2 separate regions of the Homo sapiens genome follow, and region 2 is linked to region 1. Evidence: fine-mapped expression QTL. A gene starts in region 1. The other region holds a variant in brackets. All regions are shown on one strand. Distances are between the middles of the regions. Region 1 holds the start of ANXA5 (annexin A5). Region 2 overlaps ANXA5 (annexin A5).

Evidence for each region. PIP is the estimated chance that this variant, and not a neighbour inherited with it, causes the effect.
Region 2: its variant is fine-mapped to the expression of ANXA5 in iPS cells (PhLiPS, PIP 0.95).

The regions. Positions count from the first base shown.
Region 1 is chr4:121,692,345-121,704,446 of GRCh38, forward strand. It overlaps ANXA5 (annexin A5), which reads right to left and starts at 4,636. Exons shown (of 13, transcript NM_001154.4): 1 at 4,519-4,636; 2 at 4,237-4,280. The coding sequence starts at 4,245. RefSeq lists a silencer at 4,585-5,004.
Region 2 is chr4:121,658,951-121,671,052 of GRCh38, forward strand. ANXA5 (annexin A5) reads right to left here. Exons shown (of 13, transcript NM_001154.4): 11 at 11,004-11,062; 12 at 10,652-10,774; 13 at 8,996-9,577. The coding sequence ends at 9,518. Among named protein-coding and RNA genes, the nearest start is that of ANXA5, 32 kb to the right of the region's middle. The variant T/A (reference allele first, on the strand shown) is at 6,576.

The sequences.
Region 1 (12,102 bases):
TAAGAATGACTTCCCTTGACAAACACCAATAAAATGGAAAGTTAAATTGTGTGCTCAAGTTGCCCAAGAATAACTCCAGTGATGTCTTGAGTGAGTTAAAGTGAGCAGGTGGCATTGGCCTCCCATGAGTTCACATTGAAGGTCAGAGGAGAGTATGCTCTTTTACCAAATTGTTCCATTGGGCATTCCATGAATAACACTTGAAAAGTTCTATCCCTTCCAAGACAAGGCTTGATTTCCCCACCTCACTGCAGTTTCACTCCATCATGCCAAACTCTTTTACACCCCTAAGTATTTATTTGCTGTTGTTACCTCTCTGTATGATGGCTTCCCTCCTTTGTCCCATACAAAGAATGCCAGCTAAGTAACCTCAATTTCCCCTTCTGTGAAACAAAAATAGTAATACCTATTTCCAAAACTGTGTTATGAGGACTAAATAATGCACACAAAAGACTTGGCAATGCATCTATTATATCAATAAATCTTAGATCCATTTCCCATTGCGCTCATGTTTAACAATACTTGGCACATAGTGAAAATGCAAAAGCCTCATGCATTCATGAATGCATGCATGGATGAAAAAGAGAACAGTTAAGAACTAGTGTCCCACCAGGCGCAGTGGCTCATGCCTGTAATCCCAGCACTTTGGGAGGCCGAGGCACACGGATCACTTGAGGTTAGGAGTTCGAGACTAGCCTGGCCAACATGGCGAAACTCCGTCTCTACTAAAAATACAAAAATTAGCCAGGCGTGGTGGCACATGCCTCTAATCCCAGCTACTCCGGAGGCTGAGGGAAGAGAATCAGTTGAACCCAGGAAGCAGAGGTTGCAGTGAGCTGAGATCACGCCACGGCACTCCAGCCTGGACAACAAAGCGAGACTCCATCTCGGGGGAGAAAAAAAAAAACCCAAAAAACTAGTGTCCAAAGAAATGAAGCCAGGAGTATAATTCCTTGCAATTAATCAATTGATGATATGTTTACATATTATGTAAACTAACTAAACTGAAAGACTGCGTCTAAGAAGCACTTAAAGCAAAGGTCTTAGGAGCCCTAATTTTTAAAAAACAGATGCATTTGTGAAATTTTAGAATAGTATGAAGGTTATATGAATAAAATGTATTTCAGGAATGAATCTATGCTGTAAAAGCACTGTTATATTTTTACCATTTTGAACTTCTAAGTCATTAAAAGAAGAAAGCCGGACTGCCTGCCTGTAACTAGCCTGATCACCTATGTAGGCCTTCCAAGGAGAACTGGATATTAGATAAGGAAATCAGGGTTTGCTGAATGCCAATGAATTGCTCAGTGGCTTGCAAAGCAGCCAAGTAGTTTTTGATCTAGTTCTTTCTCAGCAGCCAAAATGAACTTAAGAGTTAAACAGATAAGGAACCAAGAGAAATCACCAGGAGCAGCACAGGCCACGGGTAAACAGGTAACCCTGATCTAAGATCCCAAAAGTGAACATTAGCTCCAGAGAGACTTGACTTTAAAAAATGAATGGCATGAAAAGATGCAATCAATATCCAGTCAGCTCCTCTGGAAGGAGTTTCATCTCAAATTTATTTATTTACATTTATCCTGCTTGCTCGGCACAGGGCTTTTTTAAATTATTATAATAATTTTAAACCAACCGAAAATATTTCTGATCAAACCTTGTAACTTAAACATATACCATAGAGATAATTCTGATGTTCATGAGAACACTTGGACACAGAAAGGGGAACATCACACACCCACACCGGGGCCTATTGTGGGCGGGGGGGAGGGGGGAGGGATAGCATTAGGAGATACAGCTAATGTAAATATTGAGTTAATGGGTGCAGCACACCAACATGGCACCATGTATACATATGTAACAAACCTGCATGTTGTGCACACATACCCTAGAACTTAAAGTATAATAAAAATATATATATAATAAAAAATAAATAAAAAATAAACAAAAAAATTCTGATGTTCATGAAGCTTCTAATGAACAATTACGTAGCCTAGTTTTGCCTTCATGACATTCTTACTGCTCAGACGCCGCACCCAACTTTAATACTAAACTTTTTTTTTGAGACGTAGTCTCACTGTTGCCCAGGCTGGAGTGCAGCAGCGCGATCTCAGCTCACTGCAACCTCCGCCTCCCGGGTTCAAGTGATTCTCCTGCCTCAGCCTCCCGAGTAGCTGGGATTACAGTTGTGCACCACCATGCCCAGCTAATTTTTGTATTTTTAGAAGAGACGAGGTCTCACCATGTTGGTTAGGCTGGTCTCGAACTCCTGACCTCGTGATCCACGTGCCTCAGCCTCCCAAAGTGCTAGGATTACAGGCATGAGCCACCATGCCTGGCCAATACTAAATATTTTAACAAAATGTTTTACTTTCATGATTTCCAAAAATAGTAACAAAACTAGAACAAAATTTAACACTCTGTATCTTTTTTAAAACATTACTTGTAACTTTTATGATTAGTAAAAACTGTAGTTTTGATAGAAAACAGTCTTGGTGTTATATTGTCATAGGGCTCAGGTACATAATTTTATATGCAAACCACCATTCTCCTAGGTTTTCTATACACATGGCCTTTATGATACTAATCATTCTTTGAAATTATTAAAATTAATGTCCACAACTGGAAAATATGTTCGCTTATACTATTTGGGTAAACAGTCTACATAATGAAAAGGAATTGATGGACCCTCAGACATCACTGGGGAACTTACAAGAGATTCAAGAAACTGCTAAATGAGCAAAGATAGAGGGAATTATTATTCGATGCTTGTTAAATCTTCATGTACATCACCACACCAGCATATCAAGATAGGAAAAATATTACTCAGGAAAGTTAATTCCACATAAAAGTATCCTTTCTATGGAGAAGAACTTAAACCAAACTTTCCACTTGAAGTAATATGAGAATTGGTTTACTGTAACATTTAAGTGCAAAAGAGGAGGTAAGAATGGGATCACTGTGTAAGTTTCATAAAGTAATCAACTAATCTTAATCCTCCCATTTTCACTTGGAAAGGACCAAGAAACCTTTTTCAATTTTGATAAGTCAATCTGATAAAAAGTGAACTATAAATAAGAGACAGCATTGTTTTAGCAGTTAAAACACTTGTTTAAAAAAAACTATCTGGACTCTGACAAGCCGGTTAGATTGACAAGATCTGTGAAATCAGTTTTAGAGTTTTTAAGCCCTGGTATCTTATTCACAAAAGACTGTATAACATGGTCAATATTTAAAGACCTTAAACTATCTTCTCTTTCCTACATTTTTGATAAACATTAATAACAGTAAAGAAACCAGGCGCAGTGGGATTACAGTCCTGAGGCCGAGGCGGGAGGATCACTTGAGGCAAGGAGTTTGAGACCAGCCTGGCCAACATGGTGAAACCCCGCCTCTACTAAAAATACAAAATTAGCTGGGCATGGTGGGGCGCCTGTAATCCCAGCTACTTGGAAAGCTGAGACACGAGAATTGCTTGAACCCGGGAGGCAGAGGTTGTAGTGAGCGAGATCACTACGTCACTGGACTCCAGCCTGGGCGACAGAGTGAGACTCCGTCTCAAAAAAAAAGGAAAAAAAAAAAACAGTAAAGAAAGCCTGTAGTAGATTATCAATTTCTGAAACAGTCCCAAGGCAAATTCAATTGAGAACTCGTTCCACGAGTTCATTGCTTAAGAAAAACAGCGCTTGTGTTTAATCTTTTGGATTAAAAAAAAAATCAGAGCCTACGTCCTACAGTTTTAGTAAAACTGGGCTGAGCAACTGGAAAAAGCCAATGCTCAATCACAGTATTAAAATACAGAAAACTTTGCGGAAAAAAAATAAAGGAAGTCGGGGGGCGGGGTGGGGGGGGAATGCGTTCGCCTCACATGACCACGATGAGCTGTTCTTGCTCCGGTTCTAATTTGAGCTACTCTCTGGATTTTGGGGAAGGCCCACTTTTACACATTCACTCATGAAAAGGGAGCGCACACAAATCCGGCCACGTCACCAGCTGTTGCGCGCGAAGGCAGCTTGGCGGCGTCGGTGCTGGTTCCGGAGGGCGCTCAGCGGGAAGAACCGGGACACAGAAACGGGGGCAGGGAAGCAAAGGGGGAACAAGAAAAGTGGAAGCGATGTCCCCAAAGCAGGTTCCCTTTCCTCCTAAACTTTTTGGCTCTCAGACAAATCCTAAAAGTCCCTCGTCGCAGCATACAAAGTTGTGGGTAAATCCAGCGCAGTGGGGGGCGCACGGCCTTACCTGTGCCATGGCGACTACTCAGGTCAGGGGAAGGTGAAGCAGGACTGCAAAAGAGAAGAAACCTCGGGCTTAGCGCGCCATTTGCAACTCGTGCCCTCCCCAAGCGCAGGTCCGCGGGGACCCGGCGGCGCTCAGACAGCCCGGAGGGCCCCGCCACGGGGCCGACCCGCCCTCTCGCAGCTACCGGGACAGCTCTCGGCCGAGCGTCCGCGCGAATCCAGTGCCCCGCGACCACGCTCTCCTCTCCAGAAGGAGCCCCCTCCCCGGGCTGCGACCACTCACCCAGACTGTGGGACCCAAGTGCCCCGAAACCCCGGGAGAGCGGCGGAGAGCCGGGCGACGGTACGCGGGGCGACGCCGAGATGCAGACGCTGAAGGATCCGGCAGCTGCACCTAGACTGATCCAAGCAACGGAAACGCCAGCGGCCCCACCCCGGCCCTGCCCGGCTTGGCCCGTCCCACCCCCGCCAGGGCCCCAACCGCAGGCCGGCCGCGCCAGCCGGGCCCGCCCCTGCCCCGGCCTCAGCGCGCCTGCGTGGGTCGCGGCTCGTCCCAGTTGGTCTCCCGCGGCGCGGACTGTCCCGCTGGTCTCGCGGGCCTGGGTGGGGAGCGGCCGCAGAGCTGCTGGAACCAGGAGGAGGCGCCGCTCCCCCGAGGGCCCCGGAGACCTCTTGTCCTCGCGCCGCGGGAAGGGCCTGGGGAGCTGTCCAGGGCTCGGGGTTTTGGAGGTGCTTGAGCCTCCCTGCCCTCTGTGACCGCAGGAACCGTAGCCTCACTTGGGTGCTCAACATAGTGCGTGGGCGTCTTTTTGGAGGCGAGACAAAATCATCGCAGCTAAGGACAGCGCGCCTTTGTCGATGGGATAGAAAAAACGTGAAAGGAGGGCCGTTTCCCAAGTTGTTTTTGTTTCTGTTTTGTTTTGTTGTTTTGTTGTTGTTTTAATGCCTATTATTGCTTCCTAGATGGCCCTCTCTTAAATGTACAGCCTTCTAGTAGCGTATGTGGGCTATTTGAAAACCTCTGCTTCCAATCAGTTTCTGTTTTCAAAACTAGCCTAGAACTTTAATATGACTTAAATTTGAGCAATGCCTCATATTGGTTCAACATAAAATATATGAGTATATGAGAGAGAGGGGGAGGGAGGGAGAATCTACAGCGTATTGTACTAGCATGGTGCTGTGTTCTGTGAAAGGGCTTTATATGCAAAGCAGCCCCCAAACGCGAAGGAGTCAAGAAACCAAAGAACGAGACAGACAAATCCAGTCTGTAGGTAATAGGGGTGCTATTGGAGGATGTGGTAGACAGAAGCGTGGCCTTGGGCGGCGGCAAGCAGATAAATTTCTGCACTGTTACTCCCCAGACCCTGGCCTTATATACCGTAAGGAAAGAGTATACTGCTCTGTGCAAGACAATTAAAGGCAGCCCTCCGGAACAGGTGAGAATGCCGTATGCTTCATAGCCTACAATGTGGGCAATAGCATCAAGGTTGACATGTTCTTATGCTAAGGACAGTTTAAAAAAAAAATCCTAGGAATCAGGAGGTATTCATGGGACTGGGGTTATTAAAGGTCAACATGGCGGATTAGCATCCGGGATATAATCACTTTTGTCTCCATATGCTGGAAAAGGAAAAGTAGAAGACACAGGGACCTTCTCAGACTTACTGGTGTGGGGAGGGAAGGTGCCAGGGCAGAGGGGGCAAGAGGACAAGTTTGCGACACTAGATGCAGTGTTCTAGACATATGCTAGAATGGGAAGGGCAAAGTGCTTCTCAACGTGGAGGTTAAGGGTAAGAGATGAGGATCTAGTCTTCTTTGAGAATGAGGAAGAATAAATTAAATGGACAGCAAATGTGGTTCTTTGTATAGAACTTCTCATTCGCTTTCACGTGTGAACCACATGCCTATTCCAGCCCTGACAAAGTCACAACAGAGTGGTTGTTCTCTGGGAAAGGAGGCAAAATTGCAAAATTTGTGGAGCTTGCCAACCCCATCACCCCCACCCCACTGGCGGGTTGCCTTTCCTCTGGGAGCCTCCTCTCCACCAGCCCAGCTGTCTACTCAGCCTCAGGCTCTCCCCAAGTCAGCACCTCCCCCGGGTTTTCTTTACAGGTATTAATATATCTGAAGGCAGCCCTTTTCTGAGCATCTGTCTCCGTTGCTCCAGCTTTTCTACTTTCTCTCTGCCCTGCACCAAAAGCAGGACCTGTAGTCTTGCCTAGAGCATTCTTTTTTCTCACCCATATCCACTTGAACTCAGTTTGCTTCTCTCACTTTCTACTCTCACATTAATGGAGTTAAACAGGACCTCAGAGATCCTGTATTTAACAATCATTGATTTTACAGGGACATGAGACTCATCATGGGTTAGTGACTTGCTCTATGTCCTGCAGCTAAATACTGACAAAATCGATGAGTTATTGGACTCAGAGTCTTGAAATACTCCAGGTAGCATTTCTTTCACTTCCAGTAATATCAGTTTATTCAACTCCTACTCTGGACCAGGCACAGATCTAGGTGCTGGGGTAAACACGGCAAGTGAAACAAAGGCCTTGCCCTCATAGGTCATACATTCTGGTGGAGGAAACAAACAATAAACAAGTATCTAATATGTCCTGTGTGATGCGTGGTATAAAGAAAATAAAGGCTAGGGAATGGAAATGAAGGGAACACTTATTTTGCAAAGGTGATATGAAGCCATTTCTGAGAAGCCTTGAACAGAAACCTAAATTGATACAATTTAATTGTATTTGACAACTATACACTGAGCACCTGTGGAAAGGCCATACCTAAGAGTTTGCACCTTAATATTATAGATAAAGCATGTATATGAACACTACAATGAGAGACTATAAATCAGGAAAGAAATGCCTAGAATGCAATCAAAATGCAATTAGTTTCAGAGGAAGGAGCTAATATTTTGTCAGATGGTTGACATAGCATTTGGATTAGGCTTTTGAGAGAGGATATTTTATCAAACTATGAAGGGGAGAAAGGGTGGTCTGGTTAAGTGAACTGCAAAACCAAGAGAAGGAAAGTATCTCTTTGTGTCTGTGTGATTTGAACTGTCTAAAATGGCTGGAGTGGAAGGTACAATATTAGAGTTGAGAGATGTAGAAACTAAAACACAAAGAAGCTCAGCGACTTATTTAGAATAAAGAGAGATTGCCACATAAAGATTCTGCTTTGAATTGTGTATTTAATTGATGGATTTTGAACAACTGATGTTCTTAACTACTGAGTGATATAAATGATAGGCACTCAGGAAATCTCTTTCACTACCTCTTGTCAGCCTAATAACAAACAGAGAGGGAGACTTTCTAAAAGAAAATGATGTTTATTTGGGAATGGGCATTGCAATGGGAATATGTGTGCCATATTAAACTATTTTGCGTATTCAGGGAGGTAAAGGAAGGCAAAGGTTTTTCAAGGAAGAAGGAAGATTACATCATTGTTTTTGAGATAATTATCCTTGGCTACAGTAATCAATAACTAGAGTGGCACCAGTCTAATGTTGTACAGGCAGTTGCTGGGCAGATGTCTCCGCAGAAGTTCTCATTTTCTCTCTCTCTCTCTCTCTCTCTCTCTCTCTCTCTGTGTGTGTGTGTGTGTGTGTGTGTGTGTGTGTGTGTGGTTGCAATGGCCTTTGTCCAAAGTTGTGGTTTTTGCAGTATTTTTCAATAGTTCTTGTTATCAGGCATTTATGTATTAGAACCCTCCCTTCATGGCCTTCCCCAGCCATTTGTCAGGGATTTGTCTCGTTTTTTAACACAATTGACTCCATTTTGATAAGGACAGCTTTCACACTCTTAAAAACAAGTGTCTGTCATTCATCCCCCAATGGCCTTTATCAGTGTCCAAATGTCATCTTTAGAATCTCTGCCGGATTCGCCAGTTAAGTCTTTCATCTTTCTAATTAAATTTTCTCTTCTTACACATTTAAAAATTAAAGTCCTTCTTTCTCAGTGTATTGTCTTTGTGTTGTGTTCATTATAAGTACTACATAATAATTGTGGGGAGTTTTTTATACTATTCTTAGATATAAATAATGAGTTTCAGCTGTTTTCTATGAGACACTCAGGTCACATCAATTTTCTTTTTATTAGAGAAATATACCAAATGCCAGAGAACTAATTTACAAACACACTTTTGAAACTGTATTTATTTGTTAACTCAGGATTTTCCCTATTTCTCTCAATTATTTGGATCATTCAGGAACTAGCCAATTTATTCTAAATAAGTCGCTGAGCTTCTTTGTGTTTCAGTTTCTACATCTCTCAACTCTAATATTTTGATCATATATTCATGGCCCTACTGTTTCCCTTGATTATAATGACACATAAAGAAAAGAAAATGAGTTACAGGCTTTTTATAAATAAGTACAAAACAACTCTTCTTTAGTTTTAGAGGAATTGGAATCTTGTTTTTTAGAAAATTATAACATTTTCAACCAGTCTACTTTAAAAATTGATTTTGTTTAATAAATATATCTATTGCAAATTATGGCAAGTTAAAGAAGAAGAAAAGATGGCAGGAGAATGAATTGCATGAAGCAGAAGAAACGAGAGAGTGGCTGAGGAGTAAAGTAGGGGCTAGATACAAAGGGAAAGGAGGAACATCATGTCTTCCAGGCAAGATCTGGAAAAAGCACACTCTCTGAAGACAGAGACAGTTGAGTTCAAATCCCTACTCTGCCTGCATACCAGGGATGTGACTTGGACAAATTATGTGATTTCTCTGATCCTTGGCTTCCTTATCTAGAGTGGAGGCTAGTTTCAAATAAGTTAATTTGTGAAACTGCCTAACAAATTGTGAAAAAGGGTTGATTCCATTCCCCCATGGCTCTTTTTTCTTTCAGAAACACTAACCATCATTCTCAGTTCCTGTTCTGATGATTAAGGACCCACCTTCATATTAAAAGCAAAAATAACCTCCTCTGGACCCACTGCTCCACTGCAGCAGGACCTATTGCCAGCCAGTCTCTCAGAGACGGCAGGTCCAACTCTTGGGGGCCAACCTGATGCTTCCTGGTGCCATTCCCCCTTCTTCCCGCCTATTCTGCCTCATCCAGAGTCTACCATCGATGGCCCCTATCAACATACAACTAGCCTAGACCCCCACCCTCTACCCTTCTCTCCACACGTGGGCCCTCTGATCCCCATCTGCTGGTGCCAACAACTGTAAAACCGTCACCTGGAATTTAATTCAAGTCACCTATCTGCCCTCAACTCATTCATGTCTTAAAGTCCCAGGGTGAGATTAGAGGTGGGGCTGCCTTCCTCAGTGGGCTCTGTCAAGTCTTTTTCCACCATCATCTCTACATCCCAGCAGTGATACTGGAATGTAGCTTTATTCTAGTGGCTCCCCATTCTTGCTCTTTAGGTTTAAAGTGGTTGTAGTGTCTCTGGAGAAAATAGGTCTCTCAGTGTGTTCAGGCTGCCATAACAAAATTGCATGAAGTGAGTAGCTTATAAACAACAGAAATGTGTTTATCACAGTCTGAAGCCTGGAAAGTGCAAGAACAAGGTTCCACAGATTTGGGGTCAGGTGAGGGCTTGCTTCCTCATAGACAGCCATCTTTACTGTAACCTCACATGGCAGAAGAGACTAGCTAGCTCTCTGGGGTCTCTTTTTTAAAGGCACTCTTAGTCCCTTTTCTGTTGCAATAAAAATACCACACACTGGGTAATTTATAAAGAACAGAAGTTTATTTGGCTCACAGTTCTGGAGACTGGGAAGTCCAAGAGCATGGCACCAGCGTCTGGTGAGGGCCTTCATGCTATATCATCCTGCGGAGGAAGGCAGAAGGTAGAAGGGAAACCAAGCACTTGAGACCAAGAGAAAGGTGACCAAATTCATCCTTTTTATCAGGAACTGACTCCCGAGATAACTAACTCACTCCCGTTCATGACCTACTCACCTCTTAAAGGCCCACCTCTCAACACTGTTGCATTGAGGATTAAGTTTCTAACACATGGACTTTGGAGGGCATGTTCAAACCATAGCAGGCACTAATCTTAATCATGAAGTGGAGTTCCCATGACCTAATCATCTCCCAAAGGCCCTACCCCTAATGCCATCACCTTAGAGGTGAAGATTTCAACATATCCATTTGAGAGGGACACATTCAGACATAGCAACAGGTCCAGGTATCTTTCAGAAACTCATCCTGAGCTAACAGTGCTAACTATCCCCTTATTGAGATCCATGTGCTCACCAAGAAATTAAAAGCAGAGACTCCTCAGGAGATTTTCAGTTTTAGATGTCTTTCCATTATTTTTATGCAAAACATTTGTATTTATCCAGTAAAATGTAAATCAACTTTCCTAGTAGGACACTGGAATGTAGATCTTGGGTAAATAATTAGAATATCTCATAGGAATCTTTCATGCAGAATTTTTAGGTGTGATTGAGATTCTCAACACTATTAGTAAAAGAAGCAGTAAAGGCTGGGCACGGTGGCTCACATCTGTAATCCCAGCACTTTAGGAGGCCGAGGCAGGTGGATCACTTGAGCCCAGCAATTCGAGACCATCCTGGGCAACATGGCAAAACCCCATCCCTACAAAAAAATACAAAAATGAGGGGGGTGTAGTGGCACACACCTGAAGTCCCAGCTAGCTACTTGGGAGGCTGAGGTAGGAGGATCATTTGAACCCAGGAGGTCAAGGCTACAGTGAGCTGAGTTCACGCCACTGCATTCAAGCATGGGAGATAGAGTGAGACCCTGTCTCAAAAAAAAAAAAATAAAAGAGAAAGAGAGAAGCAGCAGCAATAAAAATACTAAGCATGCATATAAAAGGACAAGCATCCTGCATCTCTTGTTTATTGCTGAATCCCCAACACCTAGCACAGTGCACATATTAATACATTAACTCATCCATTCAAAACATTTCATGAGCACCAGGCCGGGCAGGGTGGCTCACACCTGTAATCCCAGCACTTTGGGAGGCTGAGGCAGGCAGATCATCTGAGGTCAGGAGTTCGAGACCAGCCTGGCCAACATGATAAAACCCCGTCTCTACTAAAAATACAAAGATTAGCCAGGTGTGGTGGTGCACGCCTGTAATCCCAGCTACTCGGGGGCTGAGGCAGGAGAATCACTTGAATCTAGGAGGCGGAGGTTGTAGTGAGCCGAGATTGTGCCACCACTGCACTCCAGCCTGGGAGATAGAGCAAGACTCCATCTCAAAAACAAAACAAAACAAGACAAAAAAACTCATGAGCACTAAGTAACTGCTCATGAAATGTTTTGAATGGATGAGTGAATGTATGTATGAATGCATTGAATGCATTATAGTATAGGGGTATTGGTTTTCTTAAACAAAGGTTGCTATTAACTGCAAACTACTTATATTAAGAAGGCTATGAAATGAGATATGAAAAAGAGTTAAAAGGCAATTTTATAAGGGAGAACTTTGCCAGGGGAATAAATGTATTCTAGACAGCATTCTGAATTCCAAAAAGAACTCATCCATGGTTAGGTTAAGTTTTATTTTATGATTTTAACTAGTGTATGACCTTGGACAATGATTTGATTTTTCCTTATTTGGAATGTTGGTAAAGATTAAATGTGTTGACTTGTTTAATGCGTAAAAATAACAAGAAGATGAGTTTAAATTTCTCACCCCTTTTTTTTCTTCCAGAAGCTCTCACCACTGAATCCCACCTTCATTTTCCATGCTGATGATTCAGTCCCCATCCATCCCACTCAAAATCTAAAATTAGCCAGGATCAGTGGCTTGTGCCTGTAATCCCAGAAACTCGGGAGGCTGAGGCTAGGAGGGTCACTTGAGCCCAAGAAGTCGAGGCCAGCCTGGGCAACATAGGGAGACCCTGTTCATAAAAAATAAAATAAAAATTTTAA
Region 2 (12,102 bases), 33 kb before region 1:
ATCATAAGACAACTTCTAGAAATACAACTGTTGAATCAAAGAGTATATATATATTTATAAATGTGATCTATAATGCCAGATGCCCTCCAAAGAGGATAGAACAATTCACAATGGCACCATCCAGTTATAAGAGCAGCTGATTGAGAAGGCCTTTATCAACAATTATTTTTGTCTTGGCTAATCTGCTCATTGAAACATTGTACCTCACCATAGTTTTATCTTGCATTATTTTTATTATGAACGAGATTAAACATCTTTCCAATTGTTGACTGATAACTTGTATTGCCTGCTCTGTAAATGACCTTTTCATGTCATTGGCCTTCATTTCTCATGAGTTATTGATCCTTTCCTTTCAATATGAAGGACCTCAATATGTATTAGGGAAACTACACCTATGAGTTGCAAATATTTTTCTGTAGGTGATTGTTTTTCTTTTAAACTTGCCTATTGTGCCTTTGACCATTCATAAATCTTTAACTTTCAATTCTAAAAGTTTAAGGTTTATTAGTTGAATTTAATCAGTCTTTTTGTCATTTATGGCTACTAGATTTTATAACATATTAACACTTGTTCCAAAGTCAGATAATAGAGTTAATTTTAATATTTGTATGATTTCTTCTTTTTATATTTAAATCATTGATCATCCTGAGCTGGGAGTTATGGATCCAGTTTTAGTTTTTTGAGATGTCTATCCAAAAGAGTGGGTCCTGGCACTATTTATTTAATAGTTATATTTTCTCTTTTGACTTAAAATGATGCTTTATACTACGTTTCTATCTGTATTGAGGCCTATTTCTGTCATTTTTATTCTATTTAATTGGTCTGTCTGCCTACTGTATGAGTACTACACTTCATTTTAGAGCCACTACCAAAAATAGAAAAATCAGGAAGACATATTTGTCTGTGGGAAATATAATGAATGTACTTTGAATCATTTGCGTATGAGAAGATAATGGTAGCAATAATGGATTTACGTTTTTAAAACATTTGGGGGGCCTCTAAAAAATGTTACAACAGTTGTAATTTTTGTTTTAGTATCTGGTCATTCTAGCCCCTTATCACAGTCCAATTCTTTTTTTTTAATTTTTTATTTAATTATACTTTAAGTTCTAGGGTACATGTGCACAACGTGCAGGTTTGTTACATGGGTATACATGTGCCATGTTGGTTTGCTGCATCCGTCAACTCGTCATTTACATTAGGTATTTCTCCTAATGCTATCCCTCCCCGCTTCCCCACCCCACGACAGGCCCTGGTGTGTGATGTTCTCTGCCCTGTGTCCATGTGTTCTCATCGTTCAACTCCCACCTATGAGTAAGAACATGTGGTGTTTGGTTTTCTGTCCTTGTGATAGTTTGCTGAGAATGATGGTTTCCAGCTTCATCCATGTCCCTGCAAAGGACATGAACTCGTCCTTTTCTATGGCTGCATAGTATTCCATGGTGTATGTGTGCCACGTTTTCTTAATCCAGTCTATCATTGGTGAACATTTGGGTTGGTTCTAAGACTTTGCTATTGTGAATAGTGCCACAATAAACATACGTGTGCATGTGTCTTTATAGTAGCATGATTTATAATACTTTGGGTATATACCCAGTAATGGGATGGCTGGGTCAAATGGTATTTCTAGTTCTAGATCCTTGAGGAAACGCCACACTGTCTTCCACAATGGTTGAACTAATTTACACTCCCACCAACAGTGTAAAAGCATTCCTATTTCTCCACATCCTCTCCAGCATGTGTCGTTTCCTGCGTCAGATGGTATCTCATTGTGGTTTTGATTTGCATTTCTCTGATGACCAGTGATGATGAGCTTTTTTTCATAGGTCTGTTGGCTGCATAAATGTCTTCTTCTGAGAAGTGTTTGTTCATATCCTTTGCTCGCTTTTTGATGGGGTTGTTTTTTTCTTCTATATTTGTTTAAGTTCTTTCTAGATTCTGGATATTAGCCCTTTGTCAGATGGGTAGATTGCAAAAATTTTCTCCCATTCCATAGGCTGCCTGTTCACTCTGATGATAGTTTCTTTTGCTGTGCAGAAGCTCTTTAGTTTAATTAGATCCCATTTGTCTATTTTGGCTTTTGTTGCCATTGCTTTTGCTGTTTTAGTCATGAAGTCTTTGCCCATGCCTATGTCCTGAATGGTATTGCCTAGGTTTTCTTCTAGGGTTTTTATGGTTTTAGGTCTTACATTTAAGTCTTTAATCCATCTTGAGTTAATTTTTGCATAAGGTGTAAGGAAGGGATACAGTTTCAGCTTTCTACATATGGCTAGCCAGTTTTCCCAGCACCATTTATTAAATATTAAATAAAGAATCCTTCCCCATTGCTTGTTCTTGTCAGGCTTGTCAAAGATCAGATGATTGTAGATGTGTGGTGTTATTTCTGAGGCCTCTGTTCTGTTCCATTGGTCTATTGGTCTATATCTCTGTTTTGGTACCAATACCATGCTGTTTTGGTTACTGTAGCCTTGTAGTATTGATGGAACGTATCTCAAAATAATAAGAGCTATTTATGACAAACCCATAGCCAATATCATACTGAATGGGCAAAACTGGAAGCCTTCCCTTTGAAAACTGGCACAAGACCAGGATGCCCTCTCTCACCACTCCTGTTCAACATAGTGTTGGAAGTTCTGGCCAGGGCAATCAGGCAAGAGAAAGAAATAAAGGGTATTCAATTAGGAAAAGAGGAAGTCAACTTGTCTCTGTTTGCAGGTGACATGATTGTATATTTAGAAAACCCCATTGTATCAGCCCCAAATCTCCTTAAGCTGATAAGCAACTTAAGCAAAGTCTCAGGATAAAAAATCAAGGTGCAAAAATCACAAGCATTCTTATACACCAATAACAGACAGAGAGCCAAATCATGAGTGAACTCCCATTCACAATTGCTACAAAGAGAATAAAATGCCTAGGAATCCAACTGATCCAACTAACAAGGGATGTGAAGGACCTCTTCAAGGAGAACTACAAACCAGTGCTCAAGGAAATAAAAGAGATCACAAACAAATGGAATAACATTCCATGCTCATGGATAGGAAGAATCAATATCGTGAAAATGGCCATACTGTCCAAGGTAATTTATGGACTCAATGCTATCCCTATCAAGCTACCACTGACTTTCTTCACAAAATTGGAAAAAACTACTTTAAAGTTCATGTGGAACCAAAAAAGAGCCCACATAGCCAAGACAATCCTAAGCAAAAAGAACAAAGCTGGAGGCATCAGGCTACCTGATCACAGTCCAATTCTTTAGAAAGAATTCTCCTGGCACTCTTACTTGTCTGTTTTTTCACATAAACTTCCAAAAATTTTCTCTGGGTATTTTAATGAGATCACATTAAATGTATAGTTGAATTTAAGGAGAATTGACAATGTCACAATAATAAACTTACACGCACAGCATTTCATAAATGCAGGTGATGGGTAGAAAAATGCACAGAGCGCTATTGCTGGGTCAGAAGGTAAATACATTTATAGATTGGGTAAATATTGCCAAACTACCCTCCAGAGGGGTTATACCACTTTTTATTCCTACTGACCATCTGTGAGAATTCCTAGTTCACTGTAGCTTGCCGTCACAACAACGATGTTCTCCAACTTTTGGATTTTTGACAATCTGATAGGTGGAAAAAGGAATCTCAGTGTAATCTGAATTTGCGCTTCCCTTATTATGAGTTAAATCAAGCATCTTTTCATGCTTAAGGGCCATATTTCTTATTCTATGAACTGCCTATTCATCTCTTTTGCCCTTTTTTTTTCTTACTATAGTACTGGTTTGGGGTTTTTTTCCCTTTAAAAAATGTATATACCTTAATTTAAAACTACTTTATTGCTAAAAAATGCTAACAAACATCTGAGCCTTCAGCGAGCCATAGTCTTTTTGCTAGTGGAGGATCTTGCCTCGACGTTAATGGCTGCTGCTTGGGATACTGCAGCAATTTCTTAGAATAAGACAATAATGAAGTTTGCCGCATTGATTGACTCTTTTTTTAACAAATGATTTCTCTGAAACAGACTTTTTTTTCTAAGAGACAAGCTCTCGCTCTGTCACCCAGGCTGGAGGGCAGCAGCATGATCATAGCTTACTGCAGCCTCAAACTCTTAGGCCTCAGCCTCCCATGCAGCTGGAACTACAGGCATGCACCACCACACCAAGCTCATTATTTTTTCATTTCTTTTTTGAGAGACAGGATCTCCCTATGTTGCCTGGGCTGGTCTTGAACTCCTGGCCTCAAGCAGTCCTCCTGCCTCAGCCTCCTGAGTAGCTAAGCATAAGCCACAGTGTCTAGTAGTAGAGCTTCTTTCAAAATTGGAGTCAATCTTCTCAAACCCTATGGCTGCTTTATCAACTAAGTTTATGGAACATTCTAAATCCTTTGTTGTTGTTTCAACAATGTTCACAGCATCTTCACCAGGAATAGTTTCCATCTTAAGAAACTAATTTCTTTGCTCATCTATAAGAGCAACTCTTTGTCCATTCAAGTTTTATCATGACATTGCAGCAATTCAGTCACATCTTCAGGCTTCACTTCTACTTCTACTTCTGTTGCCATTTCCACCATGTCTGCAATTACTTCGTCCACTGAAGTCCTAGGCCCCTGAAAGTCATCCATGAGGTTTAGAATGAATTCCTTCCAAACTCCTGGTAATGCTGATATTTTTACCTCTGCCCATGAATCATGAATATTCTTAATGGCTGTATTAATCTGTTCCCACACTGCTATAAAGAAATGCCTAAGACTGGGTAATTTATGAAAAGAAATTGAATTGATTCCACAGTTCTACAGGCTGTACATGAAGCATGGCTGGGAGGCCTCAGGAAACTTACAATCATGGCAGAAGGCAAAGGAGAAGCAAGTACATCTTACCATGGTGGAGCAGGAGGAAGAGAGAGTGACGGGAGAGGTGCTACACACTTGCAAACAACCAGATCTTGTGAGAACTCTATTATGAGACAACACTAGGGGATGATACTAAACCATTAGAAACCACCCCAGTGATCCAGTTACTTCACACCACTCAGCACTCAGAATCATAATTCAACATGAGATTTGGGTGGGAACACAAAGCCAAACCATATCAATGGCATCTAAAATGGTGAATCTTTTCCAGAATGTTTTCTATTTACTTTGCCCAGATCCATCAAAAGAATCACTATCTATGGCAGCTATGCCCTTATAAAGTACATTTTTTAATAAGACTTAAAGGTTGAAATTACTCCTTGATCTATGGAGTGCAGAATATATGTTGTGTTAGCAGGCATGAAAACAACATTCAGCTCCTCCTAAATCTCCATCAGAGCTCTTAAGTGATGAGGTGTATTGTCAATGTACAGTAATATTTTGAAAAGGATTTTTTTTCTGAGCAGGTCTCAAAAGTGGGCTTAAAATAACAGCAAACCATGCTATAAACAGATGTGCTATCATCCATTGTTGTACCATTTATAGAATGCAGGCAGAGTAGATTTAGCATGATTTTTAAGGGCCCTAGGATCCAGGGAATGGTAAATGAGCACTGGCTTCAGCTTAACATCACCAGCTGCATTGGCCCCTAAAGAGTCAGCCTGTTCTTTGAAGCTTTAGCCAGGCATTGATGTATCCTCTCTAGCTATAAATTGCATCTTCTAATAGAAGGCTGTTTGTTTACACTAAAAATCTGTGGTTTAGTGTAGCCTCCTTTATCAATTATCTTAGCTAGGTCATCTGGAGAACTAGCTGCAACTTCTGCATCAGCACTTGCTGTTTCAATTTGCACTTTTCTATTACAGAGACGGCTTCTTTCCTTAAGCCGCATGAACCAAAACTGCTCACTTACTTTTCTTCTGCAGCTTCCTCACCTCTCAGCCTTCATGGAATTGAAAATTAGGATCTTGCTCTGGATTGGGCTTTGACTTAAGGGAATGTTGTGGCTGGTTTGATCTTCTAACCAGACTACTCAAACTTTCTCTATATCAGCAATACGGCTATTTCACTGTCTTAATCATTCATGTGTTCAATGGAGTAGCACTTTTAATTTTCTTCAAGAAAGAAAATTAAAATTTACATTTATTCTCAATTTGGCTGTTTGGCACCAGTAGCCTAGCTTTCAGCCTGCCTTGGCTTTTGACCTGCCTTACTCACTAAGCTGAATCACTTTGAACTTTTCATTTAAAATAAGAGATGTGTGAGTCTCTTCCTTTCATTTGAACACTCAGAGGCCATTGCAGGGTTATTAATTGGCCTAATTTCAATATTGTTTTGTCTCAGGGAATAGAAAGGATCAGAGAGAGAGAGAGAAAGAGAGAGAGAGATGAGGGAACAGCCAGTCGGTGGAGCAGTCAGAACTCACATATTTATCAATTAAGCCCACTGTCTTAAATGGGCATGGTTCATAGCACCTTAATTATGACAGTAACATTGAAGATCACTGATCACAGATCACCATAAGATACATAATAATGAAAACTTAAAATATTGCAAGGATTACCAAAATGTGACAAACAGATAAAGAGTGAGCACATGCTATTGGAAAAATGGTGCTGATACACTGACTCAATGCAGGGTTGCCACAAACTTATGATTTGTTTAAAAAAA[T/A]TTTTTTTTAATTGTTTGCAAAGTACAATAAAACAAGGTGTGTCAGCATGTACAAAGGAGATTAGATCTTTGTTGTATGAACTGTAAATGTTTTCCCGTTTGTCATTTAAATTGTCTTGGTGGTGATTTTCCCTCCCTCCCTCCCTCCCTCCCGTCTTCCCTTCCTCCCTTCCTCCCTCCCTTCCTTCCTTTCCTCCCTCCCTCCCGTCTTCCCTTCCTCCCTTCCTCCCTCCCTCCCTTCCTTCCTTCCTTTCCTCCTTCCCTCCTTCAGGCTCTCTGCAGCCTTGTGCTCCTGTGCTCAAACAATTCTCTCACCTCAGTCTCCCAAATAGCTGAGACCAGAGACGTGTGCCACCACATCCAGCTAATTTTTTGTTTGGTTTTTTAAAAAATAAAAATGGGGTTTTGCCATGTTGTCCATGCTGGTCTCAAACTCCTGTGCTCAAGCAATCCACCCACCTTGGCCTCCCAAAGTGCTGGAATTACAGGCATGAGCCACTGTGCCTGGCCTGCCTTCCATGTAGTTTTTGATTTTTAGGAAATCAAAAATAATCATCTTTTCTCCTATGGCTTCTGGATTTTGGGTGATAGAAAGGCCTCACACTTCAAGATCATTATGGCAGACATGGAACTGCACCACTTAGATCCCCTTTCAAGAAAATACTCAGTTCCAAGCTGTGAAAATGTGGGTTGCTGACAGCCTTCCAACTCTTAATCTCCTTCAGGTTTTGCCTCAGCTTTCCAGCCAAGCCAAGCTCTTCTCCAGAAGACACTTAGCCAATAATTGAGTAAGGAAGGTGGTGGCACAGGGCCCAGGCACTTCTGTCTCACAAAGGGCTCTTTGCAGGAACTCTTTGCCTCAGAGTTCCACATGATACTGGCAAAGATTTGGTCAGGTCTGCAGTGCAATCTGATGACACCCCTTGCCCAATCCTGCCTTCTACCTGTTCCATTCAATAAACCTGTTGCATCCCTAACTCCATCTCAGCATCTGCTTCCCAGAGAATCTAGAAGGTGCAGGTATGATGAAATCCCTCCATGCTTCTTTCTCATATGTTTATGATTTTATTTTTAAGTTTAAATGTTTCATTTTGAGAGTTACCTGATACATGAGGTATAGAAAAAGCCTTATATTTTCCTAGATGGCTCCCCAACTGTCTTCACACCATTTGTTAGAAAAAAATGCTATCTTTACCCAGCAAATTAAGACCTACCTTTAACATATACTAAATTTCCAAATGATTTGTTTCCATATCTGAACTTGCTGTTTTGTCTGTCTATTCATGCCACAGTATTATACTGTTTCAGCTATTCAGGATATGTAGTCTAATCTGTGTAAAGAATAGAAGAATAGTGCTCCCTCACTACTCTCAAGTTTTACTAACAATCCTTCCTTTTTTGCATGATGTTTACAATCAGCTTATCTAGTTCCACAAAAATTTGTCTCCCAATAAACTCACAGAGAGCTGGGAAGAAGGTCACTAAGTAAATAAATATAGCAAATGTTTTTTGTGGATTTTTATTTTTTTAATTCTTTTATTAATAAATTTTCAGATCCAGACCTACAGAAAATATAGCAAATGTTAAAGCTCACAGGTGGATTTCTCTTAAAGTGTTACTAATAAATAATCCAGGGCTTATATTTAAAGCCAGTGGCCTATTTTCAATAACAGAACAGAGCTCTTTGAAACATATCATCTTCTATGTGAAAAGTATAACCAACTGATTCTCAACTTGCCTCTGCATTAAAATTGCCTATGAGGCCTCTCAAAAAAACAAAAATCCAATATCATGTGTACACATACAGTTTTTAAGATTCCCCTGGTTATTCTGATGAGCATCAACGGTGGTGAAAAGAATATTATCACTATTTTAAAGTTTTCAAAGGAAGATTAGTTCATTTTATTTAAAAAAGCTTATTAATGGCAATTACTTGGCTTTAAAAAAAAAAATGCAACCAGAAGGGCATAAGTACAAAAAGAAAAATGACACCAACTGAAATGGCAGTTTGAAAACAGAAAACTGAAAGGCAAATATTAGAAGAGATCGATAAACTGCTTCTTTCTAGAAAAAATTATTGTCTTTTTTATTTATCTCAAAGAAAGTGACAGACAGTAAATGGGAGGCAAGTTCACAATAGGAAAGAGGAAAGAGAAAGGTAGTACTCTGAATTTTTGCATTAAGTTTTATAATTAGCTTTTCTACTAAGCAAGTAGCACCACAAGCATTGCTTTAATAGATGCCTAAATAAACATGGTGCAAATAAACCAGAGACCCCTTCGATCTTTCCTATATTTAGGAAAAATCATGTACTATGAAGGAAATTCAGTCTATGGTTTGCATTTCTTACTGCCCAAAAGACCAACTGTAAATTCAGTTCTCAACTAACACCACTGTCAATTATTAGCTTAAAAAGAGAGAACATTGTTAAATAAATTTAATAATAAATCTAAACACACATGTACACATAATTCAGGGGGACAGAAATGTTTATTTTTCATTAATCTTTTGAATACAATCATCATAATTTTACAGGTTTAGTTTAGTTGCGAACTTCACTAATAACATTTCCAAGAGTTCACAATTTCAAGGCTAAGCTTCTGATTAAAGTATCATGGTTACAAATGTAATATAAATGGAGTTTTTAAAAAAGGCTAAAAGCACTCTAGCCTCTTAAAAAATATATATAAATGGAAAATGGCCAGGCATTAAACTTAGTAACATTAAGTACACTTTAGTACTACAGCAGTCAAAGAGATCTCCACTAGAGATCAGAAAGAAGCACCACTATTTTCTTCTATGACGTGTATGTGTTGGTCATGAGCATGCTAGTATGAATAAGGCAATGTGTTAAGCACTGGCATACAAATGCAGCTAAAGGTGCTGAAGGAAGGCAGTGGGGTGGTGCAGGCACACAGCAGGGAGCTCTTCCCCGTGACACGTTAGTCATCTTCTCCACAGAGCAGCAGAAGAGCTTTCTTATAGTCCCCAGATGTATCTCCCTGAAACCAAATGTATTCCATTAACCTCCATGACTCACAGAAGCCATAGAAAATTTTAAAACTAAATAACTGGCAACAAATTTTATTCATAAGACTCTTCTCCCAAGTGGGTAATCTCTGTGACTTTCACATCAGGAATGTTATGCAGGGAGTTTCCTACCAATGTAACCTCAGACACTCAGTATTCCCTCTGGTAACACAAAGAATCAGGCAACTTTAACAACTATAGTCAAATCAAGCCTTCTAGACAGAATAGTTTCTATCACTTGGTATATATCAGCTAACACGGGCAGTGCTGGGGCTGCAGGGCTGTCATGGCTCTCCCTCCGAGACAGAAGGGCAGAACATGCTTTGCATCTGCTTGTCTCACATGCAGACATGCATGATAAATTAATGTTTCAAGCTAAAAGTGCATGGGTAAACTCTCTAGTGTCCTTTGGGCCAGCCAAACCACAAACATGCTAAACTAAAAGCTTCTGCTCAATTGAAATCTTGCTTTGCACATGGTCCACATTAACCTTTACTGGAAAAAAAAAAAAAAAGTCAAAAGACTTTAAGCTAAATGTAATTATAGGCCACAGAGCACCTTGTTTTAAAAAGAACAAAAATGATACTAATACCTAGGGGCTCTTTACTCCCAATATGACCTGGTTGGCTCTTTCCTGAATTAGAAACCAGCATCAGAGATAAGGTGATAACAGACGATAAAGAAAGGAAAAGCTGATATGAAATAAAAGAAGGACTAATAAAGACAGCTGGAATTGATAAAAGACAGAAAGAACACATTATTATCATAGGCAAGGGGTTTGGTTTGTTGAGTCATCTGTTACCACTACTAAATAATGCTTCTGAGTTCACCAAGAGCCTCAGCCACATCAATACCCATGCTTTCACTTGGGAGCCATCATCTCTACTTCAGGAAACATTATGCTAAGCTTTTTAACTCATTGCTCTAATCGTGTCACTAAAATTTTAAACTTAACACAAGAATCAGGTTCTCTTATCCTTGTCTTTCATGCAACATACCAGTCTGCTTTGGATTCCCAAACGTAATTTAAAGAAAGGTTCTACTACCTTAATCATGGAATAAAGAGAGGTGGCAAAATTCTTCCTAAACTCCTTCCTGATGTTAAACAGATCAATCTCACTCCTGGAAACCATGACTCTGATGAGGGTATGATCATCTGTCCCAGCTCCCTTTAAAAAAAAAAAAAAAGAGAGAAGCAAAATGCTTAAAAACTTCAAACATAGGATCAAATGCTCCCGGGTGCGGGTGAATCAATAAGGTATAACAATTTAGTAGAACTGGGTTGAATGTTATAAGGGAAAAATTCCCAAGGTCTATCATCTAAAACATAAACAAAAGTGAAGAATAATAATTAGAAAGAGAAATGTATTAGATAGAAGGTTCATGGTCTCCACTTACCTTCATAGCATAATAGAGGGTCTCTGCAAGGTAGGCAGGTATACTTCGAATAGATTTCACTAAGAAAATAAACAATACAATGGTCAAATGCTATTTTGATATGTAAAGGATTAAGTAATTAAAAATCAAGTGCTGCTTCCTGCTTATAGCTCTACTTCTATAAAAACACAAAAGTACCAGAGGCTAAAGAGCTGTAAGCTAATCTGATTTCCTCACTCACCAAGTATTTTCTTAGACACTGGCTTAGGTTTTCCTTGGAGTTCTGAGGTCTGCATAGAAAGGCATGGAGAATAAGGGCACAGGTTTTTCTATGCGCCTTGGTTCTGTGAAGACTTTTTGGATACTGCAGTTTGGGCAGCCTGGATTGTTATCATAATACCACAACATTCTTCATCACCAATAAATTACACAAATCCCTTGGAAGTTTTCATTCCAAGACATTAAAGCAAATAATACAAGATTACTACCTAATTTTTTTAAACTCTTGGGTGATCTTCCTATACTCTCTACATATTCTTTAATATCAATGATTCACACAGAGCAGCATGAGATTTATCCATTTCAGTACAAAAACAGATAAATCAATATCAGAAAGGATCTCTTCTCTGAACATGTACATGTTGAATGTAGGTTGGGGCTGCTCAGACCTCAGTCTGCTTAGCTTCAGAAAATCTATCATGAAAATTCCTTAATATACAAAAATAATCCTTGCATGTGGAGATTTCTTAATTCTCCCTTTTCTAAGTCTTAAGAAAAACAGCCACCAGTAACTGAAAATGTCTTAATTTGTATGCGTATTCTAATTATGAAGGACCTGTCTAAAAGTTTTCTGGTAAAAGTACATTAACTGTGTACTCAAGTGAAAGGCTACTTTTAGAGTTGGTTCATGCAGATCTTTAGCTTAGTCTCCTGAAGACAGAGAGCACAAAAGTGTGAGCTCAAGGCCAAATACTTGGAACAAACAGCAGACAGAGGCTCACTGCAGACCCATATGAACAAAAGGACCACAGGAGACTCACAAACTAGATTCTCCCTAGCTTTGGAGTACATAATACTGCAATCAACTGCACAGATTCAGTTCTCCAATTTTTCCAGATTA